Regions from separate parts of the Homo sapiens genome. Here region 2 is linked to region 1. The links come from fine-mapping of genetic effects on gene expression. A gene starts in region 1. The other region holds a variant in brackets. All regions are shown on one strand. Distances are from middle to middle. Region 1 holds the start of MAP3K5 (mitogen-activated protein kinase kinase kinase 5). Region 2 overlaps MAP3K5 (mitogen-activated protein kinase kinase kinase 5).

Evidence for each region.
Region 2: its variant is fine-mapped to the expression of MAP3K5 in aorta (GTEx, PIP above 0.99).

The regions. Positions count from the first base shown.
Region 1 is chr6:136,784,433-136,799,676 of GRCh38, reverse strand. It overlaps MAP3K5 (mitogen-activated protein kinase kinase kinase 5), which reads left to right and starts at 7,200. Exons shown (of 30, transcript NM_005923.4): 1 at 7,200-7,967. The coding sequence starts at 7,520. MAP3K5-AS2 (MAP3K5 antisense RNA 2) reads right to left here. Exons shown (of 2, transcript NR_134635.1): 2 at 13,623-14,262. RefSeq lists enhancers at 6,120-6,199, 6,570-6,629, 6,740-6,969, 7,760-7,829, 7,935-8,450 and 1 more and a silencer at 6,990-7,629.
Region 2 is chr6:136,733,395-136,748,638 of GRCh38, reverse strand. The region is part of intron 1 of MAP3K5 (mitogen-activated protein kinase kinase kinase 5); the gene reads left to right. Among named protein-coding and RNA genes, the nearest start is that of MAP3K5-AS2, 43 kb to the left of the region's middle. RefSeq lists an enhancer at 3,447-3,616. The variant C/T (reference allele first, on the strand shown) is at 8,214.

The DNA of each region.
Region 1 (15,244 bases):
CAATCTTTTAATCTCAATGTTGCCCTCTTCCACCACTGCAATTTATTCATGCAAGAAAGTGAGCCATTTGTCTTATAGAGTTTCCTACAGTCTAGATTTTACTCATTGCATCTCCAGAGTATTTGACCCTGTTTTTATGACTTTAATATGTCCTGAAATTAACTGTTGAACCCAGGCCTTGGGTTCTGGGGCTTTGATAGATTCATGTCCACTGTTTTTGGGATGACTACTTCATGGTTGATGGTGTGTTCTTTCATCAGGAGGCATGCAATAATCTGGTCATCTCTCTTTTAATGATATTAGTGACTATTAATGATTGATATGTAGGCTGGGTGCAGTGGCTTATGCCAGTAATCCCAGCACTTTGGGAGGCTGAGGCAGGAGGATTGCTTGAGCCCAGGAGTTCTAGACTAGCCTGGGCAACATTGTGAAACCCTGTCTCTACCAAAAATACAAAAATTAACTGGGTGTGGTAGCACGTGTCTGTGTCCCAGCTACTAGGCTGAGGTGGGATGATTGCTTGAGCCCAGGAGGCAGAGGCTGCAGTGAGCTGAGATGGAGCCACTGCACTCTAGCTTGGGCAATAGAGCCAGAACCTGTCTCAAAAAAAAAAAAAGATTGATATCTGAATCCAAATTCATTAAGAGTTACAAAATGGTGATATTATAATGACATCAGGCTTTTGTATGCATTAGCTGGAATATTTCTGTAAAGAAAAAGTTCCCTTATTACTACATGGTTGCCCAGTGGTATTTTCATTCTTTACACATTTCAATTCAGTATAAGAACTGGAATCTTAACTAAATACTTAAAATAGCACATTGGAGCTTCAAAGGATTTTCAGTGGAATCTAATTCAACACTGTGTTTTGTGGATGAAGAAACAGGTCCAGAAAGGTTAAATTAGTTTTCTAATTTCTAAACGCTCATTAGTAGTTATCAGAGTCCCAACAGGAAACAGGTAGGATAATTTGAAGTGGGTTTATTTACAAAAAGACTAATTACAAAGCTGTGGAAGGGTATAAGGAGGCTTCAAGGAATTCTTCATGAGCTTGGGGCCAGCAACTTTATCATTTCTAGGTGCCAATAAACAACAAAGCAAGGGACAGTTATGAGACCCTGTTAGAAAGTGAGTCCCATAGGAGCTGTCACCTTGGGAAGAGCAATAACCTTCTGTTGAAGAACACAGCCAGCCTGTAGTGACTCATACAGAGTGAGTCCAGGAGAGAAATACCCAGCTCCCAATGTCCTTCCTCCTGCAGATCCCTGCCTGGACTCCCCACTGACCAAATCCAACTGATAAACAGAAAGGAAGGGAGCCCATTGACTTAATTCATAGCCTCCCAAGACAGAGACTCTGGGGGATATAAATGGAGAGTGAATCTAGAGGGGAAAATCAGAAACAGATGGCAAAAATTTCAGTTCACATTCTTGCTCTGATTCCACCATGCTACCGTGCATTCAAATATTTGCTTACATTTACAGATCTTATATTTGTAGAAATAATTCATGGCCCAAGATGATGTCATCTTCCTCTGGAGTGAATTTTGTTTCTCAAATGCAGGGAACTACCTTAATACAATTTTAGGGTTTGAGACTTCTTTCTGGGTTACTCAGATGAATGGAAGCAGGATTGCTGTCCACGTACGGGCCATCTAACCTATAGTTCACTCTTACTTGTAGGGTATATCATCTTTAATTTTGTCCTCAAGATGTTATCAAGAATTCAGTTCAGATAAACACAGGCACAAAAATCCTCAACAAAATACCAGCAAACTGAATCTAGCCGCACATCAAAAAGTTAATTCACCCCGATCAAATAGGCTTAATTCCTAAGATCCAAGGTTGGTTCAACATATGCAAATCAATAAATGTGACTCACCACATAAACAGATTTAAAAACAAAAACTAGATGAATATCTCAATAGGTATGGGAAAAGCTTTTGATAAAATCCAACATCCCTTCATGATAAAAACCCTCAACAAACTAGGCATCAAAGGAACATACCTCAAAATAATAAGAGCCATTTATGACAAACCCAGAGCTAACAAATACTGAACAGGCAAAAGCTAAAGACATTGCCCTCAAGAACAGGAACAAGACAAGGATGCCCATTCTCAGTATTCCACATAGTACTGGAGGTCCTAGCCACAGCAATCAGGCAAGAGAAAGAAATAAAAAGCATCCAAATAAGAAAAGGAGTCAGATAATCTCTCTTCCCTGAAGATAAGAATCTTTTTTTTTTTTTTTTTTTTTTGAGACAGAATCTCACTCTGTTACCCAGGCTGGAGTGCAGTGGCACGATCTCGGCTCTCTGCAACCTCCATCTCAAGTAGCTGGGACTACAGACTACATGCTCAGCTAATTTGTTTTTCAGTATTTTTAGTAGAGATGGGGCTTCACTGTGTTGGCCAGGCTGGTCTCAAACTCCTGGCCTCAAGTGATATACCCGCCTTGGCCTTCCAAAGTCCTGGGATTACAGGCATGAGCCACTGCGCCTCATCCCCTGAAGACAAGATTCTATACCTAGACTCCACCAAATGGCTCCTAGAATTGATAAACAATGTCGGTATAGTTTCAGGATACAAAATCAATGTATAAAAATCAGTAGCATTTTCATATACCAATAACGTTCAAGCTGAGAGACAAGTCAAGAACACAGTTCCATTTATAATAGCCACACACACACACACACACACGCACACAATCTAGGAATACATCCAATCAAGGAAGTGAAAGATCCCTACAAGGAGAATTACAAAACACTGTTGAAGGAAATCATAGATGACACAAACAAACAGAAAAATATTCCACGCTGATGGATTGGAAGAATCAATCTTGTTTAAATGGCCACACTGTCCAAAGCAATCTACAGATTCAATGGTATTCCTAAGAAACTACCAACATCATTTTCCACAGAATTAGAAAAACTATTCTACAATTCATATGGAACCAAAAAGGAGCCTGTAGAACAGCAGGAAAAAATAAAATAAAATAAAATAAAACCCCAAAAGAGCCTGAATAGCTAAAGCCAAAGCCAGAGGCATCATATTACCTAACTTCAAACTGTACTATAAGGCAACAGTAACCCAAACAGCACGGTACTGGTACAAAAACAGACACTCAGACTGATGGAACGGAGTAGAGAACTCAGAAATAAAGCCGTACACCTACCGCCATCTGATCTTCAACAAAGTCGATAAAAATAAGCAATGGGGAAGGACTCCCTGTTCAATAAGTGGTGCTGGCTAGCCTTATGCAGAATAAAACTGGACCCCTACCCATCACCATATACAAAAATTCACTCAAGATGGGTTAAAGATTTAAATGTAAGACCTCAAACCCTAGGAATCATAGAAGAAAACCTAGGAAATACCATTCTAGACATCGGCCTTGGGAAAGAATTTATGACTAAGTCCTGAAAAGCAATTTGCAGCAAAACGAAAAACTGACAGACGGGACCTAATCTAAACAGCTTCTGCACAACCAAAGAAACTATGAACAGAGTGTGGTGTTACGATATATATTGGTTTTCATCTGTGGTTTCTGGCTTGTAACTCCCATAACCCTCGTTATAGTCTTCTGTTATGTTGAGTGTGTTAGGCCTCAGAGGCAGGCCTCTAATTTTTTCCTGCTCTCCTTTTACCTGCTAACAACCCCCCACCTTTCTGACTGTGGGTCTTAAGACCTTCCCAGGAGAGGGTCCCATTGGATACACATGGACATAAAGATGGTAACAACAGACACTGCGGACGGGAGGGAAGGAGGGAGCAAGGGTTGAAAAACCAACTGTTGGGTGCTCTTTCTACTACCTGAGTGACAAGAACAATCGTACCCTAAACTTGAGCATCATGCAATATATCCATGTAACCTGCACATGTACCCCCGAATCTAAAATAAAACTTGAAATTACTTTAAAAAAAGCACTATTTTGCACAGCTCAGTGATTTTTAGGAATTCATGTGTGCCTTCACAGTGGGAGTGACTGTGCTCCTCCCAGAGTATTTTCTTCATGTACTTCTTCAAATACCTCCTACACTTCAGAAACTTCTCCAGATTTTCTTTATACCCTTCAACCAAAACAACATGCTGCAACAGCATGAATGTAGAAGCAGAAATGAGAATCCACTGTCATCTATTAAGCCAGACATTAAAAAGATTTGTGAAAATGCACAACGGTGTCACCATTCTTTTTGTTTTGTTTTGCAAAATACCGTTATTTTTCATTAAAAAAATTCACTTCAGCCTTTCAGCTGCCTAATTCAGATCCACAAAAATCCCACAGCCAAAGGGAACCCTGACTGTAGACTCACCCTCTGGATTCCTGTCCTTTCTTCCAGAATCTTGCCAGCTAGTTCCTCATTATCTCATAACCCTATGCTATGGAACATAAATTACCTAAACCGTGCCTTTTAGGTAGAGGGAGAATCTCTGGACCAGCTAGAAGCAGAATTTCAACATTGTATTGGGGTTTGGGTGCCTAACATAAAAAACATATTTAAAGTTAATAAATCAAAAAAGCCAGCAAAGTAAAACAAAAAATAAAAATTGTGTATGAAAATGGCTCTGAAAGGATCTGGAAGGAAAGCACAAAGTGAGAGGGTATAAAAAGTTACAGCTTTGGAAAATAGCTTGATATATAATTTCAGATTTTGTATTTCTACAGTAAAATGCTACTTGAGCATTTAGGCGTTTTAGTTTTCCACACATGAACCTCATCGATTTCCAGAGTTTGTGGTTCTTGGTGAGGATAGCGGGGAGGATTATCTTACTCCTACAAGGTTTTGGAGGTTTGACAAGTTGTTGAAAATATTAAAAGGCACATAACTATTACTAGCTCAGCAACATTTTGTTTCAGTATAATCACTGATTCACTACCTATTTTACTATTGATATTAATTCCAAAAGCTAGTGTGGGTCACATAGATTCCATTTTACATGAAGAATATAAAGTTTCCTTACTAGAAATTTACTTCTATTATTTTATACACCTTTAGAAAAATCTAATGTCACATTGATTCATTGATACAGTTGTGTAGCGGCTAGGTGTTTTTCCTCATGACTATTTCCTTCCTTCCTTTAATTATTATTTTTTTTTAAGATGGGGGTCTCACTATGTTGTCCAGGCTGATCTTGAACTCTTGGGCTCAAGCAATCCTCCCACCTTGGAGAAAATTAAAGAACTCTTTCCTTTAATTCTTTTTCTTTTTCTTTTTTTAGATGGAGTCTCGCTCTGTCGCCCAGTCTAGAGTGCAGTGTCGCCATCTCGGCTCACTGCAACCTCCACCTCCCGGGTTCAAACGATTCTCCTGTCTCAGCCTCTCGAGTAGCTGGGATTACAGGCGGCTGCCACCACGTCCAGCTAATTTTTGTATTTTTAGTAGAGACGGGGGTTTCACCATGTTGGCCAGGCTGGTCTTGAACTCCTGACCTCAAGTGATCTGCCCGCCTCGGCCTCCCAAAGTGTTGGGATTACAGGCGTGAGCCACTGCGCCCAGACTTTCCTTTAATTCTTTACTATTCAGCTATTTTATCCTTCCTTCTTACCCAGTTTGAAATGTAATTCATGGCTGGGCTGGGTGGTTCACGCCTGTAATCCCAGCACTTTGGGAGGCCGACGCGGGCATATCACCTGAGGTCAGGAGTTAGAGACCAGCCTGGCCAACATGGTGAACCCCACACCCCTCCCCCTCCCGTCTCTACTAAAAATACAAAATTAGCCTGGTGTGGTGGCGCATGCCTGTAATCCCAGCTATTCGAAAGGCTGAGGCAGGGGAATCGCTTGAACCCGGGAGGCAGAGGTCGCAGGGAGTCGAAATCGCGCCATTGCACTCCAGCCCGGGCAAGAAGAGCGAAACTCCGTCTCAAAAAAAAAAAAAAGTAATTTACATTTTCTTCTGCCTTTTTCACAGGACTCACTAGTCTCAGTTCCTGGAGATGGGAAGTACAAAACCTGTTTCTTTACTCAGTTGTAACTTGCACTGGCTTTCCTAACAATTACAGCATTCTGGGGTTCTCTGGGAACTTACACATCTGTTCTTTGCTCCCCAAATAAGCAGGTACTTTTTTTGATTGCTCTTAAACAATCTGGGTATTTCCCTCCCGGCCTCGCGTGATGCAGTTTAAAAAATAGAATAGGTCACGTTATTCCCCTGTTTCATCTTGTTGATAATTTGTGGAGTCGGGTAGAGACTCCATCTTCTATCTTAAGTATCTGGCGCTTGTGGGGGAATTAAGATCCTAAATGAGAATACTAAGTCCTTCGGCAGTTGGCACTAATCAATTACTCATTACTGATAACGGAATGAGCCACTGGAAATTTTAAAAGGAAAAGTACATGGGAGAACCTGATCAATTTAGCCAGCCACTTCTGGAGTGCCACAGTCACTAATGAAGCAACCTCCAGTGCAGGCCCTGGCTCCAGGGCGCTATGTACAACCTCCTGCCTCGCGCAACGTGGGTCTCCCGGAGCCTATCCTGCCAGCGCCGCGCACGGTCCCAGTCCACCAGGCCGCCAAGGCCCGGAGGGGGGCGCCCTAGTCGCGGGGAACACTGGAAATGCTTCAGGGGCGGACTCCGAAGACCGAGTATTGCCTCGAGGGACTTTCTGCGCCACCCCGTAATCGCTTGCGCTCCAGGTCTTCGTAGGTGGGGGCCGGGTGGGTGAAGACTGGGACCCTATGCCACGCGCAGCACTCAGAGGAGGGCTGGGGTCCCAGGGCCGCAGCGCGGTCAGTTCAGTCCGGGCTCGAGCTTCCTAGCAGCGCCCTCCTTGGGGGCTGGCCCTGACCCTCGGTGCCGCTACGAGTGGGTGGCCAGAAGCTGGTGGTGGAGAGGGAGAGCGTCTGCAAGGAACGACGAGGCTGGCGCCGGGACCACGCGGCGGAGGCGATCGAAAGAGAAACGAGGCCAGGCAAGGAGGAGGAAATCCACCCGATGAAGGCGAGCTGCCGCCTAAGAGGGAGGAGGGTCCTTTCGGCTGCCGCTGCTGCTGTTCCGGGACGCCGCCTGGGGAGCCAGCCCGCTCGTAAGGTGCGCGCCAGGTAGCTCCGCACCCAGGGGGCGCCCTTCCTGGCCCCTCCCAGAGCGGCCGGGACGGAAGGAGCTGCGCGGCGCGGCGCGGCGCGGCGCGGCGGGTGGCGAGGGCGGGCTGCACCCCGAGCGCGGCGCCCTTGAGCTGCACCGCGGCGCAGGTTTGCGAGCCGACTTGTCAGCCGGCCAAGAAAAGGAAGCTCCGTCCCTTCCCGCTCACCCGGCTTCCCCACCCCTTGTACTCTAAACTCTGCAGAGGGCGAGCGGCGCGGCCACGGAGGCGCCGAGGAGGAGCGAGCCGCCGCCGGGCAGCGGCGTGCCCTCGGGGGAGAGGGCGCCGGAGAGGAGGCGGCGGCGCGGCGGCGAGGGCGCGGCGCGCGATGGCAGCTGCTTAGCCCGGCGGGCGCGGAGCAGCCCCGAGCTGTGGCTGGCCAGGCGGTGCGGCTGGGCGGGGGACGCCGCCGCCGTTGCTGCCCGGCCCGGAGAGATGAGCACGGAGGCGGACGAGGGCATCACTTTCTCTGTGCCACCCTTCGCCCCCTCGGGCTTCTGCACCATCCCCGAGGGCGGCATCTGCAGGAGGGGAGGAGCGGCGGCGGTGGGCGAGGGCGAGGAGCACCAGCTGCCACCGCCGCCGCCGGGCAGCTTCTGGAACGTGGAGAGCGCCGCTGCCCCTGGCATCGGTTGTCCGGCGGCCACCTCCTCGAGCAGTGCCACCCGAGGCCGGGGCAGCTCTGTTGGCGGGGGCAGCCGACGGACCACGGTGGCATATGTGATCAACGAAGCGAGCCAAGGGCAACTGGTGGTGGCCGAGAGCGAGGCCCTGCAGAGCTTGCGGGAGGCGTGCGAGACAGTGGGCGCCACCCTGGAAACCCTGCATTTTGGGAAACTCGACTTTGGAGAAACCACCGTGCTGGACCGCTTTTACAATGCAGGTGCGTGTGTGACCCCTTTCCCATCCCGCGCGGTCGGGACCCGCGTTTAATCTGGCGGTCTTCGGGGCATTTCATTTTTCTGGGCGGGAAGCATTTACTTCTTGCCCCACTTTGGGGGCAGCGAGCGCCGCTGCGTGACTGCTCCTGTCGCTCGCCGCTCCGGAGAGAGCGTGTGTGCTTGTGCAAGAGTCTGTGTGTACTTGTGCGATAGACCTATGGATCCACCCACCGCCCAGCGCTGGAGCCCTGGGTCCATGCGATCGACTTGAACTGTTCTCCAGCAGTGTGAGATATTTGCCCCAGTCAGTCTTTCTCCTTTCAGTGTCTCGGTTTCGCTTCTGTGAGGTTTGGTCCCTGTTTTCTTTCTGCATATACCTGTGACCGTTTTAGATGAGGTTCTCCTTTTCTCTGTGTAGTTTTGAGAGTACGGGAACGATGACATACCATGCACGCAGAGTGTAACTATATTAATTTGCATGCCATGTGATGATCTTCCCAACTCACCTTACCTTCGATAAGTTTTAGTAGCTTGAATTTCCTCTCACCAACCCAGACTTTGAAGTAATTACAGTGCTTCCAAAGGCAATAACATTACAACTTACACTGAACTTGTGTGTTATCTTTGTAAGGATTTTGGTGAAAGAACCAGGGCCTGTTTTTTATTACCCCATAAACCATGGTGGGCTAGAAAGTTTGTAATTTAACATTGTCTAAAACACCTGTATGCTATCCTAATAATAAGATTAGTTTCGCCATTAAAGTGATTGCTAGCATAATCCATGAAAGAAATGTATCTTTCAACCTATCTCAAATTTCAGAAAATGTTAAGGCAGTTCTAGTAACTGAAGCACTTAGCTGTTAGCAAATGTTAGGAATAATACCATATTATGGAAATTAACCTTTAGTCCCCTGTACGTCCAGTGTTGAGAATATATACATATTTATGTTTACATTTGTGGGTAAAAACTTGGTTTAGTAGTTTCAAAACAATACACTTCTTGCATTTGTGATCACATAAAAGGCTTTATTTTCCAATCTTGTTTTCAATTCTGATTCTCTTTAGTGTCTTCCAAACACCTGAAGTGGGCTTATGTCAGTTTTGGAATTCAGCCAAAGCTGAATATTTTGAGAACAACAAGACCTTCATGTTAAGGAAGCCAGACTAAATAAACTAGGACTTTCTCGTTCTGGTATTTTTAAAATAGTTTTGGTCTTCATAACTGAGCATGGCTATAATATAGCTTGATTCTTTGGGTAGCTTGCTATAAAAGTTACATCAACATAACTTTTCTAAAAATTGTAGCACTCTTATTTTTGGATTATAATTTGGAAGAAACTTCAAAGAACTAAAAGATATGAGAGGAAAATACCCAACTGAACACTTGAGCCTATTTTTATTGCACTGATTGGGCGTTTTTTTCCTAGGGCTCTAGAAAAAAAATGTTAAACTCTAAGCTAATTTGAAAGAAACTTTCCTAACAAGGCTTGGTTTCTGTTATTCTCCAAATACTGTCTCTGGGAAAGGGAGAGAGAATGATTAGAAGGGAGCTGAAGTTTGAGTGTATTTCATTGAATCCTCCAAACAAGCCTGTGAAGGAAGTACTTACCTTCTTAGGTGAGAAAACCCAGGGATCCCTAACTGGCCCTAGGATTCATAGGGAGTAAGTGGCCAATGCAGGATTCCACTTCAGGTGGCTGACCCTAAAAGGTTGTGCTTGGGCCAGGCGTGGTGGCTCACGCCTGTAATCCCAGCACTTTCGGAGGCCAAGGCGGGTGGATCACCTGAGGTCAGGAGTTCCAGGCCAGCCTCCTGGCCAACATGGTGAAACCCTGTCTCTACTAAAATGACAAAAATTAGCCAGGCATGGTGGTGCACACCTGTAGTCCTAGCTACTCAGGAGGCTGAGGCAGGATAATCACTTGAACCTGGGAGGCAGAGGTTGCAGTGAGCTGAGATTGTACCACTGCACACTCCAGACTGGGTGACAGAATGAGACTCTGTCTTAAAAAAAAAAAAAAAAAAAAAAAAAAAAAGAGGTTGTGCTTGGCCCTTGCTTCCTCCATTTAGGTGGGCTGAGTTACTCTCAGAATCAAGGGAAGCTCCCTATCTTGGAATCATGTGAGTGAGCTGGCAAAGATCTTACCAGGCATTTAGGTGTGTATGGAATAGTGGGGAGGGCATGCTCTCGGAAGCCTCTTTTTCCTGCGCCCACTCTGTCCCTTCGTACTGCTTCTTTCAACCTAGACAGGTCTCAGTTTAACCCCTGCCCATCTGGATGGCATGAACTCCCAGGATGAGTGCCCTCTCAGTCAGCATGAAAGCATGAAAATGTGACAGAATGAAGGTAGTGCATCAGTTTTATCCAAACCCTTTGTTTCTATTTTATTTTATTTGTTTTAGAGACAAGGTCTCACTCTGTTGCCCAGCCTGGAGTGCAGTGGCATGATCATGGTTCGCTGCTAGCTCGAACTCCTGGGCTCTAGTGATCCTCCTGCCTCAGCCTCCCGAGTAGCTGGGACTACAGGCATGAGCCACCACGCTGGGCTAATTTTATTTTATTTTACTATGTTTTTTTTGTAGAGACGGGGTCTTGCTATGTTGCCCAGACAGGTCTCAAACCTGGCCTCAAGCAGTCCTCCTGCCTTGGCCTCCCAAAGTATTGGGATTACAGGCGTGAGCCACCGCACCCAGCCTCCCATCTTTAAGTTTACTTGTACCCAATGTTTAGCTCCCACTTATGAGTGAGAACATTCAATATCTGGTTTGGTGTCTTTTTGGTAGAACAATTTATTTTCCTTTGGGTATATACCTAGTAATGGGATTGCTGGGTCGAACGGTAGTTCAGCTCTTAGTTCTTTGAGAACTCTCCAAATTACTTTCCACGGTGGCAGGACAAATTTACATTCTCACCAACAGTGTGTAAGTGTTCCCTTTTCTCTGCAGCCTCGCCAACATCTGTTATTTTTTGACTTTTTAACAAAAGCCATTCTGACTGGTGTGAGATGTTATCTCATTGTGGTTTTGATTTGCATTTCTCTGATGATTAGTGATGATGAACATTTTTTCATAAGTTTGTTGGCTGCTTGTATGCCTTCTTCTGAGAAGTGTCTGTTCATATCTTTCGCCTACTTTTTAACGGGGTTATTTGTTGTTTTGCTTGTTGATTTGTAGACCTTTCTTAAATGCGTAGTTTGTGAATATTTTCTCCCATTCTGAGGGTTGTCTTTGTACTCTCTTAATAGTGTCTCTTGTTGTGTAGAAGCTCTTTAGTTTAATTAGGTCCCATTTGTCATTTTTGTTTTTGTTGCAATTGCTTTTGAGGACTTAGTCATAAATTCTTTCCCAAGGCTGATGCAGAATGGTATTTCCTGGGCTTTCTTCTAGGACTCTTATGGTTTGAGGTCTTACATTTAAACCTTAATCCATCTTGAATGAATTTTTGTATATGGTGATAGATAGGGGTCCAATTTTATTCTGCATATGGCTAGCCAGCACCATTTATTGAATAGGGAGTCCTTTCTCCATTACTTACTTTGTTGACTTTGTTGAAGATCAGATGGTGTTAGGTGTGTGGTTTCATTTCTTGAGGTCTCTTTCACAACTTCTCAACTCTGCCCTATTACTCAAGAGCAGCCATAAACAGGACCTAAACAAATGATCATGACTATGTTCCAACCAAACGTTATTCGTGGACACTGAAATTTGAACTTCATATACCTCACAAAGTATGATTTCTTGTTTTATAACCATTTTAAAATGTAAAAACCATTCTTAGCTTGCAAGCCATACTCAAAAACAGGTGGCCCACAGGATTTGGCCCCTGTGCCATGCTGACCTTTGCTCTACACCCATGACCTGTACTTGAAAGTTGAATTTTTATGAGATAGTGGGAAGAACATGGTCCCTCATATTAGATCCGAGTTTTCATCCCAGCTCTGCTGTGAACCATGTAATTGTGAGAACGGCCCTTCATTGCCTCCAGTGGTGTTTCTTTGCCTGTAAAATTGACCAGGGTTAGAAGTGAAGGGGGAATTGAACACATTTTTTTAGGATTCCCTTATTTAATCCTGTGAATTTACAAAGGCAAGGTGGCATGGGATGCAGGCACAAAGCATTAGAACAGCATTTTCAAGGTTTGGCTTTGGGTCCTGATTCTTTTCTAACTTGGAGCAAGTCATTTAAAGCCTCAGAAAAGAGTGGAGTGTTGGAATAATTGGTATCTGAGATTCCCTCCAGCTCTCAAATTCTGTACTTTAAAATGACAGCATTATTAAGACAAATGAATCATTTCAGCTCGTAGAGATTAAATGAACTGCTTGTATATATCATATTCCTGCCCCTGAAGAGCTCAGAGTTGGTGGGGAGGGCAGACCAATGCCTTTGCCTTAGCAGTGCCTCTGTGCCAGGATGCTGGGCTCCCAGGAATCAGCTTCAAAAATCAGATTGAGGATACAGTGGGTTCAAGGGTAGCTTCTTATGCTTGTTTTTTGTTTGCTTTTTTCCTTTTTGTGGAGAATGGGGTCTCGCTATATTGCCTAGGCAGGTCTCAATTTCCTGGGCTCAAGCTATCCTCCTGCCTCTGCCTCCCTAAGAGCTGGGATTACAGGTGTGAGCCACCACACCTGGCAAGGGGTAGCTTCTTAAAGGTGGTGACACCTGAAGTGAAATGGCAGGGTAAGCAAGGAGAGCCTAATGAAGGTCTCAACGTTTACATGGGAAACAGTGATGTTCGAATAGCTCAACCTAACGGAGTGAGTAAGAACTTATTCCCAGCTACTCGGGAGGTTGAGGTGGGAGGATCCCTTGAGCCTGGGAGGCTGAGGCTGCGGTGAGCTGAAATCGTGCTACTGCAGTCCAGCCTGGGTGACAGAATGAGACCCTGTTTCAAAAAAAAAAAAAAAAAAAAAAGAAGAACTTAAAGTTTGGTAACATTTTTAATAAACTTTCCCAATCTTTGTGTACTGATGTCTTTAAAAAGAATAGGTTGCAAGTTAAAGGTTTTCACTGATTTTTTCTTGATCTGTTTACTATTTAACTATATTTTAATTTCTTCTTTGACTACAGTTGTCATTTGCTTTTTCATTTTCTTTCTGAGGTGAAGCTAATGCTCTGTCAATGCTTTTATGAAAATTCATCTTATTTACGTATACAAGAGACTGTCACTCAGAGACAGCAAAGCCAAGCTGACAATACCCCTTCTTTGCCCTCTGCATTGTAGGCAGAAAATTCCGTAAAAGCTAAGAGATGTCAATACTATCGTGTTGCCCTGTGTAGGTGGACAGATCCCAAATGGGAAGCTTTCCAAATTTTTTTTTTTTTTTTTTTTTTTGAGATGGAGTTTTGCTCTTGTCACGCAGGCTGGAGTGCAGTGGCTCGATCTCGGCTCACTGCAACCTCTGCTTCCTGGGTTCAAGTGATTCTCCTGCCTCAGCCTCCTGAGTAGCTGGGATTACAGTCATGTGCCACCACATTCCAGCTAATTTTTTTGTATTATTAGTAGAGACAGGGTTTCATCTTGTTGGCCAGACTGGTCTCAAACTCCTGACCTCAGGAGTGATCTGCCTGCCTTGGCCTCCCAAAGTGCTGGGATTACAGGCGTGAGCCACCGCGCCCAGCCCTAAATTTTTTTTAAAAGACATCAATGCTGCTATTCTCTTGTTTTGCTTATGAAAACACTGAACCGTGAAGAGGTTATATTCATTCATTCAGGTTAAATGTTTGAAGGTTCTTGCTTGGAGCACACTTTTCTTAGAAACAGTATTGCACATGGTGGTCAGATTCTGGGACTAGCCTGTAAGAAGCCTGGTTAACACAGTTTATGGAACCATTCACCATTTTAAACATTCGGGAAAATTCTGTTTCTGAAACCTAAAACCGGGACTTTTCTTGTATTAGAGCAGTGACTTTTGCTTTCATCCACCTCTGAGTAGCATCTTGGCCAGATGTAGGAGAAGCATCAACTTGGAGTGGTGAAGGTGGTGGGGCTGTGGTGAGGAAGGGGACAAAGGGAAGATCAGGTGGCTGCAGGGAGAACCGGGATGCTGTGTGAAGGAGGAGGCAATGCCAGCAGGAGATCCAGCAACACTTTCACTTCCTTTAGGCTTCTTCCCTTTCTACTTCTGGCCGACGTAAGACCCAGGGATGCTGCTGTGCTCAAGGCCACCTCACTCCTTCAGTGGACACAGGGTTAGCTTGGCTGCCTGCTTCCCATTTCCTTACCACCAGCCTTCACATCCGCCCGGGCCTTTCAGCTTGGCTCACTGCAGATTGCAACCGCTTACTCAGCCTTTCACCCTGTAGCAATCATAGGTAACAGGAAGGAAGCACATGCTAGTTAAAATTGTAAGAACTTAGCTTTTCTATTCTCATCCATGGTATGTTCCCACTTTACTTGAGCTTGTGACAAAAGTCGCCCATGTGTTAATATGCCATCTTGCTGGAGAGGCATCTGACCTTGCCAGGCTTTGGCTCCAACTTGCTTCCAGCAAAGCTCCTTAGGACTTCTAATCTTATTTGGTAAAACAATAAAACAAAACAGAACATAACCTTGTATCCCATCTATCCCAGATGGAGAAGTTCTTGAAAATTGTCCAGCCCACTTCTGCATTTCTACTTTCAATATACTTTCCGAGTATATTGTCTCATATATTTTGAAGGAGAGAGTAAAGTCTGTATGTCCTAAATAGTGGTTCCCACGAACCAGTTAAAAAAATTTGGAGGACTGACATGTGTTTGCCAACATTTAAATTTTTCCAAGTAAGAGTATTATAAGTAGAGAAAGTGAGGAAAATCGAGAGAGAGAAAGAGAGACAGAGAGACAAGAAAATCAACAACCAGCCACCTATTGCCATGATTTCTTAAAAAGGAAAGTTTTATGTTAAAAAAAAATTAGTGGGGGACATAACCTTAGAATGAAGGGCAGATCTTCACATACAGAAAATGTGTGCAAAAACTCATGACTTGTTATTTATTTTTCCCATTTCTCCAAGGATGAGTGAAAACTTTATCACACCAGTCAACAGAGTTGTGTTTGAGAGCCTCTGATTGGAACCGCCCTGCAGCCCCTTCCCACCTTTCAGCCACTGCTTCACGTGAGAAACGAACCTTAGTAAAATTATCAAAAGAGCAAACGTAGATAAACTCATAAGGGAAAACTCTAGTTAGGGAAGGATTTTTTAAAAAAATCCCAGTGGTGTCCAACACATGGTTTTTCTCTGAGCTGTTCACGTTCCCTGGCACACCATTGTAGCAGCTGCCACCCACCGCACACAAACTG
Region 2 (15,244 bases), 51 kb after region 1:
TGCATCTTTATTCTTCAAGAAACTAATCTTATAGTCTTTTGTATATTTTCTCAGGTTTTATTTGCCCTGTGTCTTGTCTTTGCATATGTTTTGCGAAGAACACTCCCCCATATTTTTAGAACAATTTTCTTCATTTTTTTTCCTGAACAAATACATATTTGTGTGAGCATACATATATAGACATTTTGGGGGATTTTAACCCATTTATGACTGAGGTTGCAATTTTTTGAATTTTTGCAATCAGACCTTGGTGATGACCTTGAGCAGTAGGATATAAATAACTCCTACATGCTTGGTGTTCCAATAATGGAACACTAGGTATAAATTAATACGGTTCAAATGTGGCTGTGTAGTGATAAATATTGACATTTTTCCAAGTGCCTTCTTTATCTGAATACATTTGAGAAGCTTGTCAACCAAGATAATCCACACCTGATTCAGAAAAGTGGGATTAAGTCCACTGACTAAGGATGTGAAATGGATAATATTGTATACTCTATGCCTACATGGACACATTCACAGCTCTACAGATGACTCAAGGAATACTGCTTTATTTAGGATTTCTCACTTTGGGGCAGAAAATGGAAATTTTGTTTTTTTTTAGAGATCATTTTGAAATCCATCTCTTAGATCATGGTAATAAATAATGGCCTCCAAAGAACCACCATATATCTGATAGACCTAGGTTCTTAAATACAGCAATATTTTCCCTGTTGGCTAAAGTTGGCTTCATTGTATGCTGAAAGCATTCCTTTTTACCCTGTTTATGGATTTACAATATGGCCGCTGCTTGGAGATCACTTGACAATAGTCTACACCCTTGCTACTCAAAATGTGGTCCCTACACAGCAGCATGGGCATCAACTGGGTGCTTATGAGAAAGGTAATCATCACCCCAATGTCACACAGCTCAATCAGAATCTCTTTTTTGACACAATATCCTGGTGATTCATGTACACATTAAATTTGAGAACACTAGTCTGAACTCACAATTTTTGCCTCATAACCTCCCACTTATTCTTCAATCCATTGTTTTTAATCTGCCAGTCTTGCAAAAGACACTCATGACCTGTTAATAGCTAAACATGCACCAGGCTTCTCAGCCTTTGCTGTACATTTCCAGCATATACTATTGTGGTGGGTTTTCGGTTCTGTTGGTTCCTTTTAGAGTTATAGTTTGTTTCGCCCCAGAAAATTCTTTTAATGGGCATTGGCTCCCTGTACATTCTTTGGCCAGAGTGTATCTAGACAGCACCCGTACTAACAGGACTAGAAGCCCTGCTGCCCTATGAAGGGACCAGAGATGTTGTAACCTGGATAAGAAAATGTCATGGATGCCAGGATTACTGTTCTTAAGTGTCTGAAGGTTTCTGGAAGAGAAGGAATTTGAGTTTTTCAGTGAAGCTTTAGGAAAGCAGAAAATAGAAGCAATGGGCCAGACATGGCAACTCATGCCTGTAATCCCAGCACTTTGGGAGGCCAATAAGACCAGGAGTTCAAAACCAGCCTGGGCAATGTAGCAAGACCCTGCCTCTACAAAGATTTAAAAATTAGCTAGACATGGTGGCGCGTGCTTATAATCCCAGCTACTGGGGAGGCTGAAGTGGGAGGATCCCTTGAGTCCAGGAGTTTGAGGCTGCAGTGAGTTATGATTGAGAGAGCAAGACCCTGTCTCTCAAAAAAACGAAAGAAAATTGAAGCAGTGAATCAGTAGAAGTTAGAGACAGATTTTGCATTTGTATAAAAAATACATTTTTAAAGAATTTGAATATTCTAACAAGAAGTGTAATTCTTTCAACTGTATGTAGCAAACTGACCATTCTTAGAGCACAGACGGTGTTCAAACCAAGGCCACCAGAGGTACTGAAGAGTAGGGGTCAGAAAGAGGACTGGGGGATTTCCCCTAATTTTTCTCACTAATCCTTATTGCTTTTTTATTGCAAAAAGGAAAGAATATTGTTATGCATACTCAAATTGTTTTTTTTCCCCTGTTAAACCATGATTATACATAGATTTTGTCTCCCTCTCTCGTGGGTATTAGAACCCTGCATGGTTTTCTCTGTGTGGTGGGGCCATAGCTTTCTTCTAGGATAGTTATTAAAATGCATACCACTTTCAATTGTGTATCCGGCATTCTTTCCGTGATGTTCAGTGCCTCGCTAGTCATTTTCATTTAAAGAGACCCAAATACTTCCATAGAACAGTACATAGAAATTCCTGGGTCAATAATTAAGTTGTAACTAATAGCTCATAGTCAGACATCATGTTATTACAGGTAAGATTATCTTCCACCTGTATCGTTTTTCACAGACCTACAGACATGAACGTATTTGTATTTTCCTGCCCCCCCCTCAAAATTTTATGAAATTTATTTCATTTGAGTCCTTTATGTCTGGTTTTTTCATTCTGTAAACCTAGAGAATACTTATTAACTTGAACATTAAGCCATAAACCTGCTGTATTTACCATAGTTGGTATTTGTTCTATTGGGGAAGTCAAGAGTTAAGATATTAAATCATTTGAAGTATCTGACACTCTTCCAAAACTGCCACCATCCTAGTTCAAACATCATCAGCATTTCGCACCTGGACCCATGCAGCTGTCTCCTAACTAGTCTTCCTGCTTCTTCTCTTGACCCTGTTTCCAGGCTATGCATGCTCCTTACCAACTAACATCCCATAAGCAGAATCAATCTGGGTTTAAGGGAGAAGCAATGTTAGACATTAAGCTAACGTTAGGATGAGACTTTGGAACGTGACTAAGAAATCTCTGGGTTATGCTAACTCTCCTCGGAATTATCTAGATTAAATTTCTTGCTACCAAAAAAGACATTATCTATGCCTTTATTGAAAATATTGTTAAGTAGCAGATACAGATGTGAGCTCTTTTTCATGTCCACGGGCCCTTCTTCTGTGTGTGTAGCTGGAAGGCTTTGAACAAACAAGCAGCGGAAACATGCAGAATGCCTGCAGAAAAACTGAGGCACAGGCAGCGGCACAAGGAATTTTATTTTTAGAGTCCACCCTGTGAACAGGGTCTTGTGATGTTCATGGGCAGGATGGTAGGTGTGCTGGGAGTCACTGCATTCCTCTACTCCCAGCTCAAAGAAGGGGAGAAAGAGCCATTCAGTGGGGAGCGTTCCCAGCATCCTCCTCCCTGCCACAGCAGCCAGAGGCAGGGAGCTGGCCGGCCTTTCCTTTAACTCTTTGAGTGCCCTGACAAAACCTTTTTTCTAGGTCACGTCAGTGTTCTTGTATTTTCAAAAAGTGTATTCGTGTGTTGAGAGTTGAACATGGAGAGAAAATTAATTTTCTTCCCAACAATTTGTGTTGGTGAAATACATGATTATATTTATCCCATTTTTAATACTCTGATATAGGAAAGGGAAAAATAGTCATCTTCGTCTATTCAATTTAAAGGAACTTTTCTAAACAAGATACATAATAGATGCCGAAGCTCCAATTAAGTTGCTCAAAAAAAAAAAAAAAAAAAAAACTTTAATGACTGCCAAGTGTATGCCCGCTGCTGCCCTGTCAGTATTCTGAACAGGAAACATTATGTTCCAGCCAAATACCACTTACACTGGTCTTCATTTTAAGAGCAATTTATTTCCATTAATGTGAAAATGAATATTTGTTGCCAGAATTTCTAAGGAGCATGATAATGGATCAAAATGCTAAAATAAGCAGTCGGTGCTCTGCGGCATGGTTGATGGATGAGTGTCTTTAAATCAGCTTCCAAATCTGTGGTTCTTAGTCTTATTGAAAATTAGAATCACCTGATTCCAAAAATCCTGATGGCCACCCTACACCCCAGACCAAGTAAATTAGGATCTCTGGGCTGAGGACTCAGACTTGCTGCTTTTCAAAGCCCCCAGGTGATTACAATGTGCAGCCAAGGCTGTGAATTATTCTTTAAGTGACTAGGCTTTGCAGCTGCACTTCATTGAGCCGTAACTTCTCTAACCAGAACTCCCTGGTGTAGGTGCTGGTGAGGGGTGTGCAAGGTGTGGATACCTGTCCATGTTGGAGTGCATGGGGTTGGAAGTTCTACTTTCTGCTGCTGGATTGGGAGCTGCTGATTTCCAAACTGTGGTGGCATGGACTAGGTCCTCCTTCCAGCACAATCTCAAGATATCTGTGGGAGTTCTTTGGCTTCTGTCAAAGTGTCAGGAGCCTTCCTTATAACCCTGACACCATGAACAGAGACTTTTCTGGGCATGGGAGAGTCAAGGGTTCTCATATATACATATATATATGTATATATGTATGTACACACACGTGTATATATACATATATATGTGTATTTCAGAGCGGTTTTAGATTTACAGCAAAACTCAGCAGAAGGTACAGAGACTGCCCATAAACTCCTTACCCTCCCACAAACACAGCCTCCTCTGCTGTTAATATACTGATCTAGAGTGGTGCATTTGTTACAATTGGTGAACCTTACATTGACACATCATTATCACCTGATGCCCATAGCTTACATTAGGGTTCATTCTTGGTGTTGTGTATTTTATGGGTTTGGACAAATGTATAATGACATGTATCCACAATTATAGTAGTATATTGTACAGCATAGTTGCACTGCCCTAAAAATCTTGGTTCTCTGCCTATTCATCCCTCCTCACAACCCTTGGCAACCACTTATCCTTTTGCTTTTTCCATAGTTTCTCTTTTTCAGAATGTCACAGCCTTTTCATACTGGCTTCTTTCACTTAACAGTGTACATTTAAGTTTCCTTCGTGTCCTTTCATGGCTTGATGGCTCATTTCTTTTTAGCCCTAAATAATAATGAATTGTCTGTCTGTACCACAGTTTATTTATCCACTTACATCCTGAAAGACATCTTGGTTGCTTCCAAGTTTTAGCAATTATGAATAAAGCTGTTATACACATCTGTGTGCAAGTTTTGTGTGGACATAATAATTCACTTCATTTGGGTAAATACCAAGGAGTGCAAATGGTGGGTTGTATAGCAATAGTATAAACGTTTAGTTTTATCATAAACCACCAGACTGTCTTGCAAAGTGGCTGTATCATTTTGCATTCCCATTATCAATGAATGAGACTTCCTGTGGTTCCACATCCTTACTGGCCTTTGATGGCGTCAGTGTTTTGGATTTCAGCCATTCGAATAGGTGTGTAGTGGTATCTCAATTTTTTTTTTGTTTTTGTTTTTGTTTTGAGACAGAGTCTTGCTCTGTTACCCAGGCTGGAGTGCAGTTTCGCGATCTTGGCTCACTGCAACCTCCGCCTCCCGGGTTCATGCCATTCTCCTGCCTCAGCCTCCCGAGTAGCTGGGACTACAGGTGCCTGCCACCATGCCCGGCTAATTTTTTGTATTTTTAGTAGACACGGGGTTTCACCGTGTTAGCCAGGATGGTCTCGATTTCGTGACCTCATGATCTACCCGCCTCGGCCTCCCAAAGTGCTGGGATTACAGGCGTGAGCCACTGCGCCCAGCCGTATCTTAATGTTTTAATTTGCAATTCCCTGATGACAGATGATGTTGAGCATCTTTTGTTCTTTTTCTTTTTCTTTTTTTTTAGAGACAAGGTCTCTGTCACCCAGGCTGGAGTGCAGTGTCATGAGCATAGCTCACTGCAGCCTTCAGCTTTCTGGGCTCAGGTAGTCCTTCTACCATGACTCCTGGCCTTAAGTGATCCTCCTGCCTTGGCCTCCCCAAGTGCTGGGATTACAACAGTGAGCCACTTTGCCTGGCCCCATGAACATGTTTTCATATGCTTACTTGCTATCTGTATATCTTCTTTGATGAGGTATCCATTCAGGTCTTTGGCCCATTTTTTAATCTCATCGTTTGTTTTCTTATTTTTTAGTTTTAAGTATTCTTTGTATATTTTGGATAACACTCTTTAACAGATATGTCTTTTGCAAATATATTCTCTCAGTCTGTGGCTTGTCTTCTCATTCTCTTCACAGTCTTGACAATTTTTTTTGCTGAGCAGAAATTTTTAGTTTTAATAAAGTCCAGCTTATAATTCTTTTATTATGCCTTTGATATTGTATCTAAAAAGTTATGATGATACCAATGGTCATTTAGATTTTCTTCTATGTTATTTTCCAGGAGTTTTATAGTTTTTCATTTTACATTTAGAACTATGATCCATTTGAGTTAATTTCTGCAGAGGGTGTAAGGTCTGTATCTTTGTGTTTTTTTTGTTTTTGTTTTTTGTTTTTTTTTTCATGTAGAGGTTCAGTTGTTCCAGCACCGTTTGTTGAAAAGATTATCCTTGTTTCATTATATTGCCTCTGCTTCTTTGTCAAACATCAGTTGACTGTGTTTATGTGGATCTATTTCTGGGGCTTCTATTCTGTTCCGTTGATCTATTTCTGTAGTCTTTCACCTACACCACACTGTCTTGTTATAGAGCTTTAGAGTAAGTTTTGAAATCAGGTAATGTCAGTTTGTTCTTCTTCAATATTGTGTTGGCTCTTCTGGTCTTTTCCCTCTCCACATAAACTTAGGAATCAATTTGTCAATATCCACCAAATAACTTGCTGGGATTTTGCTTGAGATTGCATTGAATATATAGGTCAAATTTTGAAGAACTGACATCTTGACAACATTGAGTCTTCCTATCTATGAACATGGAATATCTCTCAATTTATTTAGTTCTTTTTTGGTTTCTTTTATTAGGGTTTTATAGATTTCCTCATATAGTTTTTATCCGTATTTGGTGAGATTTATACCTAAGTACTTCATTTTTGGGGGTGCTAATGTAAATGGCATTGTGTTTTTAATTTCAAATTCCACTTGTTTATTGCAGACATATAGAAAAGCAATTTACTTTTGCATATTAATCTTGAATCCTGAAACCCTGCTATAATTGCTTATTAATTCTAGGAGGGTTTTTGTTATTGTTGATTCTCTTGGGTTTTGTACATAGATGATCCTGCCATCTGTGAACAAAGACAAGTTTTATTTCTTGTCTCCATCAGTATACTTTTTATTTTTTTCTCATTTTATTTCATTAGCTGGGATTTCCAGTATGATGTTGAAAAGGAGTGGTGACAGGGGACAGCTTTGCCCTTTTCTTCACCTTAGTGGGAAAGCTAGTTTCTCACCATTAAGTATGATGTTAGCTATAGGGTTTTTTTTTTTTTGTAGGTATTTGAACACTTTTATTATTTTGATTTGACTGCAAATTATCAACATCTTATTCAGGCTTCTCCAGCTGTGAAGTTAGCAATTAGAAGTGGTTGTGATTGAAACATTATCTATAATTCAATTTTGAATTGATAATATATAAATCAATAATTTGAATTTTGCTCCCATACCAAATGGGCATGTGTATGTTTATTTGTATGCATAATAAATTGTATAGGAAAACGCTTAGAGTGAAATACCAAAATGGTTAGTATCTCCGTGTGCTAGCTAATAACAGGTCATTTTAATATGTATATTTATTTGCTACTAAGGACTAAATATATTATATTTTTGAGGGTTGTCAACCATTAAATTGTTTATCATTTGCCTGGATATAGTTTCATTATTTCTTACATTTAGTTAAGAGGCTCACATTGCTACTGTCATGGTCTATATCGACAACCAAGACAGTCTTATTGATGGAAAAGCAAGTGCATATATTATAATGAAATGTGGTGAGAACTATTGGGAATTCAACATGAAGAAGTAAATAGTCTCTCCAGGAGTGAAAAAAATTCACCATCTTAATGTGACCCTCATTTTCAAAACAAGTAAAAAATCTAGCTCTCGTACAGAGCAGTAGGATCCAATTAAATGGTAGAAAATTGCCCCTTTGTAATTTAGCACTCAAGCTCCTTCTCAGAAGTCTGGTTTATTTATGATGACAGGCACAAAGGGAAGATTCAGAGCAGTTTAAGAAAATAACTTATGTAGCACTTTTTCTAAAAGTAAGCTAACATAAAAACTCACTCGAGAATCCAAGGAAAAATGTCATCTGGTTAATGGTGGGATTATGGATGGTGGAATTTCAGGTAACATTTCTTCTTTTTTTAAATCTTTCTTTTTTTTTATTGTCTCAGTCTTGCTCTTAAATAAATCACACGGAGGTAGAAAGAGCTGGGGAGAAGTCTTTCAGATATGACGACCTGGTTTAAGCCAGTTTCCAAAGAGTATTTGGGACTTTTAGTCCAGGACTCAGGGGACACGTGGTCTGCATTATAAAACCAGCTCTGGCTTGTTGATGTCTAAAAGAAACTTGA[C/T]GTGACATGAATATTTTCAGTAAGAAATCATAAGTAAACAGCAGAAATTCAAGAAGACAAAGATCAGCCCTTGGAGGAAGATGTAGATTCCAAAAAAGGAAAACCAAGATTAAAGGTGAAAGAGGGGGAAGGTAAAAAGAAGGGAAAAACACTTCACCTCCCCCGTCCCCAGCCCCGCTGTGCACACTCCCACACAAACAAGAAATGACCAAAGAAAAGACGAAAAATTGCAGCAAGATGAAATGCAATTTACTGTGAAGAGCGAGGGCTGGAGTTTAAAAGCTGTCTGATTCTACTCCATGCCATTTGTAAAATTTCCATCATTACCTTGGCTGGGAGATTTGGAAAAAGCAGCTTGTGTCTGAGAATAATTTGAAGAACATGCAGGGCTGGGGTCTTCATCCTGTGGAAGCCCCGGGGCCAAGCCACCTAGAGTAGCAGCTGTAAAGAGGGGCTCCTGCTGAGTTTCTTGGCAGCTACAGGCCCCTGCTGCCACTGCCCATGGAAGGGACAGCTAATGGTGCAGGAACTGCCGCTTGCTTAGGGCCCAACCAGGACACTTGAGAATGAATGGGGGGATCTACTAGAAATGACAATGAGATCATACATATCATGGGATAACAGACATCTAAGACTGTTTGAAGCAAACTGGAATATTTATTCAGCTGGAAAATTTCTGCACCTTCTACGGGGCTTGCCATTAGCTGCCCTGGTCTGCCCCCTTCAGACCCCCCAAAATAGTGACTGCAAATGTTGGTTGTGTCCATATGGTCTAGGACCTCTCTTGAAGATGCTCTTTAACTACAGACTTTTTTAAGGCACTAAAGGGTCTACTGAAAAGAATGAAACTCATCTTACTGATTCCATACTTCCTGTTTATCGAATAGGAAAAGTATGAGAAAAAAGTACAGGAAATAAGAAAAATGTCTGTAAGTGATTGACAGTACCCTGGGGTGGGAGTGAGGGGTGAATGTCCCCCTGACCCATGGCCCACTCTCTAGTCGTGGCTGATGTTCATTGACACCTCTTTGTTGTTAAGCCCTTTCTGTGACAAAGACTATTGTTATTGTTGGTTGACAGGTGAGGAAATGGGCTCAGGGTGTTGAGGGCTGCACAGAGCAAGTGTGGATTTGGGCATTCTGACACCAGCCAGCTACACCCCAGGCATAGCAGGCAGGAGCGACACCATGGCCATTTGTAATGCCTGGTCAGCACTGACTACTGATAGGCCACATTTACTTCTACATCCCTTTATTTCTATATCTCCTTCAGACACCATTACTTTGTCAGGGGAGCTCCACTGACGAATCAGTTCTGTCTGTTGTACTGTTCAAAATGCCCTGTGTCATGTCGTCAACACACTTACCACAGTGTGCATTTGTTTTTGTACGTTTATTTGATTGTCTCTTCTCTTGCTAGATCATAAGCTTTCTGAGGGCAGGAACCTAGTGTGCATGGGTGTGTGTGTGTGTGTGTGTGTGTGCACGCGTGTGTGTGTTTGGATGACTTTTGTATCCCTTGGACCTTAGCACTTAGTATCCCTTGGCACTTAGTAGGGATTTCATGAACATTGGCTGCACTGATGACTGAACCGGTCCCTGCTTTGGAGCTGACGTGGCTACAGGTTCCTTAGGCCATCAGCCGTCTGTTCCAAGTAGAGCTAGCTGTATGTGGTACCCTGACTGTTCTCACCAGCACTTCAGCTCATTAGCTCTTTCTGTTTCTGATGGCTAATATACATATAGAAGCGAATGCTACAAATTCAGGAGCTTATATAGTCTCCTTGAAATGAATAATTTTGCTAATGCCTTTGCCAGATCTGCATTTTGTGCTCCTCATTGCCTCCAAATACTGTCTGTTGCTGTGGTGATGATCTGTGGACTCTTGGGCTGAGTGCCAGTTGGAAGACTCTTTTTATTATTCAGAAGCCTTTTCCACAGGTTGTCTTCTGTTTGTTTGTTTGTCTCTCATTTTAGCAATGTGAATTAGAAGCTGTCTCCTTACCATCAAATGCCTCCTCTGCCGGGTATTTCTGTTAAAACAGTCAGGTCCCTTGGAGGACACAGACAAGCAGGTCCGCAGCTATAAGGTCTCAAGTAGAGAGAGCTTTGCCAGGAAGAGGTACCGAAACTCCCCTTGGACCAGGGAAGTAGGGGATCCAAGCGATACGTTACAGGAGAGGATGCATTTAGTCGGGCATGGTAGAATGCATAAAGACACAAGTAAAATGAAATTTCTTTCTCCCTAATAAGAAAAGTTTTTACTGAAAAGTGTTCCCAAAAAATGATTGTGCAATTTATTTTTCTCCCTGTAAACTTCCTGTGGAAAGACCAGCTGGGCAGAGCGATAAGCCATTTCTCATTCGGTGGGTGGTGGTGTACATGTCCATTCTTAGGTAGTGGAGCAATTTTTTCTGGTAAAAAGAAACTCCTATATTATGCAATTGCAAAGCAGCCAGGAATGTCCCTTCTTCCCAGGCCCTGCATCCTGAAATTCTACCACTTCTCAAGGCTTACTGTGAAGCTGTTGCCCTGAATGGCCTTCTCCATTACTCCTGTAAGAATCAGCCACTCCTTGTCCTCTGCTCCCAAAGAACATTTACATCTATTTCATTTGACTTTGCACTTCTGCTGCTCACATGTCCAGCCATTGCACTTGAAGGTTATCAGCCCATGAAGGGCTGATGCTGATTTCTTTGACCCCTTCTCAGTACTTTGCACAGTATAGACAATCATGTGTGTTAAAATCAACATGTGGGAGAACAGAGTAAAGGGAGTTCTTAATTCCATGGTGCTATGATGGATGGAAGCTGAGGCGAAGAAACCGGAGCCTCCTGGGCAGCGTGATAAGAAGCCGTCAAAGGGCTCCTTGGAGGGACTTAGTATGTGATACATGGCGGGGGCTGCCCTCTCCTTTCCTTTCTGGTCTGTTGTCTCTATTCAGCAGGCTTATCTCATTTTCCCCATTGTGGGGCTGGTGAGGGTCTTTGGTTCCCTGTCTTCATCTCTGTGTGGCTGGCCTTTTTTTCAACTTTTATTTTAGTTTCAGAGGATACATGTGCAGGTTTGTTACGGGGTGAATTGAGTGTCACTGAGGTTTGGTGTACGAATGATCCCATCACCCAGGTGTAGTGAGCATAATATCCAATAGGTAGTTCTTCAACCCTCGCCCCCTTCCCACCCTCCCGTCTCTAGTATCCCCAGTGTCTATTCCTATTTTTATGTCCATGTGTACTTAATGTTTAGCTGTCATTTACAAGTGAGAACATGCAGAATTTGGTTTTCTGTACTTGCAGTAATTTGCTTAGGATATTGGCCTCCGTCGATAGCCTTCTTTTAAAGAGACATTTATATAATCACATCTAAGTTTATATATATATATATATATACACACACATATATATATGTAAAATTAATTTGTCACATTAAAAAAATAACAACATGGCTGTACACAGTGGCTCATATCCGTACCTGTAATCCCAACACTTTGGGAGGCTGAGGTGGGAGGATCACTTGAGTCCAGGGGTTTGAGACCAGCCTGGGCCAATTAGCAAGACACTGTCTCTAGAAAAAATATGTAAAACATTAACCAGGAGTGGTGCTGCATGCCTGTAGTCTCAGCTACTTGGGAGGCTGAGGTGGGAGGATCAGTTGAGCCCAGTGAGCTATGACCATACCATTGCACTCCAGCCTGAGTGACAGAGTGAGACTCTGTCTCTAAAACAACAACATTAGTTTTCCTAGAGTATGCGAATTCCTTTACTGATAGATTTAATCAATTGGAAGAAAGAAAGAAAAAAGAACCAGACTCTTTCATTATAGTCAGTGAAGTCCAGCCACCTGTCTGTCAGCAGTTAAAAGATCAGTTAACAATGAATAGTTTTAATCTTATTCATTTCCTCTAATAATTCTCAAGAAAGAAGTCTCAAACCCCCTTAAATGGATTGTTGGACTTAAATGGAATGTCAACACGTACGCTAGGAATGAAATTATTTACTGGCAGAATCATTTATACATCTGTCATGTCAACAGAATTACAGATACTATTAGAAGAAGTAAATTTGAACAAAAACTATTGCACATTTTGACTAGATGAAATTATTAGGTGTCGAAAGTGAGCTTAACAGAGTAGAAAGAAAGGGTATGGCCTCTTTTAGAGATGTTGAATCCTGACTGTGAGAGGTTTCCATTCGTTGACACATTAAGAATCTTGGAGCACTGTGGAGCTCCCAGGCGCTCACCCACACTTCTTAGATCCAACTGGATTTAAGACCACGAGAAATGACAGCCATAATTACAAGAGGAAAACCCTCCAAACTAGCTTGCTTACCAGGATGAGCAACGATTTCTGCCCATAAATAGTATGCAACTGGATTTCATTTAATTTAGTTTCTACAGGAGTAGAAAGAAAAAAAAATACTGATTTTCTTTCTACAGCAATAATGGTATAGTGTTTCTTACTTACAATTATATTTCTATGGCATGCAAGATAATGCTTTTTTGATAAGGAATGCATACATCATGTGGTGCCAGACATTAGCATTCTTTATTTTTTAACATAGGATGAAATTATCATGCTTTTTTTGTTTGTTTTTTTAGAGATAGGTTCGTGCTCTGTCACCCGGATTGGAGTACAATGGCACGATCATAGCTCACTGTAACCTTGAACTCCCGGGCCCAAGCCATCCTCCTGCCTCAGCTCCTTAGTAGCTGGGACTGCAGGCACGCACCACCACACCCAGCTATTTTTAACACTTTTTATAGAGATGGGGTCTGACTTTGTTGCTCAGGCTGGTCTCAAACTCCCGAACTCAAGCGATCCTCTGCCTCAGCCTCGCAAAGTGCTGGGAATTACAGGCTTGAGCCACCTCACCCGGCCTATCATGCTACATTTTTCTTCTCTGAAAGATAAGGACTCCTAACACAGTACCTTATCATACTTAAAATAATTCATTTCTTGATATCATCAAATATCCTGTCAGTTTTCAAAATTTTGATTATCTCATAAATGCCATGATTTTTTAAAGTTTACTTTTGTAGAATCCAACCAAGGTCCACACATTACAGTTGACTATGTTCCTTAAGTCTCTTTTAATATCTAATTTCTACTTTCATCTCCTCTTCTCCCCTGTGATGTTTTTGTTAAGGAATTCAGGTCATTTTTCCTGTAGAATTTTCTAGAGTCTAAGTTTTTCTGTATCACCATGTTACACTGCTTTAATAACTATTAATGCTTATGTAAACATAATTCATATAAATGACAGTTATTTCCCTAGCCAGAGTGAGAAATACCTCCTCTTAATCAGAACAACCTCAAGCATGAGTTAAACTACCATAGCCATTTTTGCTACTGAACATCATCAGAGAATGTGAAGTTCTCCCTGTCCTCTTTCTGTTTTCCATGTGAAGAGGTTGTAGAGGTATAGGACGATTAGGTAAGAGTATGTCACTCAGCATCCACATCTGTGAGGAACAGTTGGATTTTCTTCAAAAATTATCACAAATCAACTCCTATAACCTTATGTAACTTAAACAAGTGCCAATTAAATGAGGCAGATTATTGGTTTGGGTTGTGAGGGAGGATGCTCCCATAAGAATCTTACAGTTACAAAGGGCTACTCTGTGTGACCGAGGAACTTCACTGAAGCATAAATGAATGAAGCTTTGATGGTTTAATTAAAACTAAATATGAGAGACCAAAAAAACAAATGACATAGACCTTAACCACAATAAAACTGTAATAAGCTTCACAAAAGCCTGTTCATATATTCATGAGCAGCCTTTTCAGTATCTAATTAAAATAGATTTATTACTTAAGGACTGAAATGTTTTATACAAAATGAGTTTATAGAGATCTAAATTTATGCATATAGACTCAAACCCAGCACACCTTCATGAAATATAACCATTTCAAGGAGAAAAATAGTTTGCCGTGGCGATACAGAAATTTTTACCAACAAACTAGCCTCCTATCCCATTGCCTTTTTTTTTTTTTTTTTTTTTTTCCGAGACAGAGTCTCGCTTTGTTGGCTAGGCTGGAGTGCAGTGCCATGATCTCTGCTCACTGTAACCTCCGTCTCTCGTGTTCAAGCAATTTTCCTGCCTCAGTCTCCCAAGTAGCTGGGATTACAGGTGTGTGTCACTGCACCTGGCTAATTTTTTGTATTGTTAGTAGAGACAGGGTTTCACCATTTTGGCCAGGCTGGTCTCGAACTCCTGACCTCAGGTAATCCACCTGCCTCAGCCTCCCAGAGTGCTGGGATTACGGTGAGGTGAGCTACCGCACCCAGCCCCCATTTCTATTTATAATGTATAGCATGTCCCTGTCACATAATAAACTTTACGGTTCATTTTGACTTATACATTTCTTATATACTCTTTATAGGTCATTGACCTGTTGTATTGCTGTTACCATGACATTAAAACATAAATTTTTGAATGGATAGGCAAAGTCTGGAGGATTTTTAGGGCAGAGGATTTTTAGGGTGTTATGGTCTCATACTCTGTATGATCCTATAATTATGATACTTTAGTGGTAGATACATATCATGATAAATTTATCTAAACCCAAAGAATGTACAGCATCAAGAGTGAACCCTAATGTAAACTATGGACTTTGTGTGACTATGATGTGTCAATGTAGGCTCATCAGTTGTAAAAAATGTACCACTCTGGTGGGGGATGTTGACAATGGGGGAGGCTGTGTGTGTGTGAGGGCATCAGGTATATGGGATGTCTTTGTACCTTCCTCTCAATTTTGCCATGAACCTAAAACAGCTCTAAAAAAAAAGGTTTTTTTTGTTTGTTTTTTGTTTTTTAACTTAAAGACAAAAAAAAGTTAAGGCATAAATCAGGCTCTGTTTTAACTTGGAAGGAGAATAACACTTTTTTGGGTAGGACCTATTTGTACTTTTCTAATAAGCAAAATTATGTAGGAGACTGCTATGCTCATATCAGGAAAATATCTCTTCATAAAGTACTTGGTATGCACCAGAAGATATAAACTGTGATTTACCCACTTTTTTTGTGAAG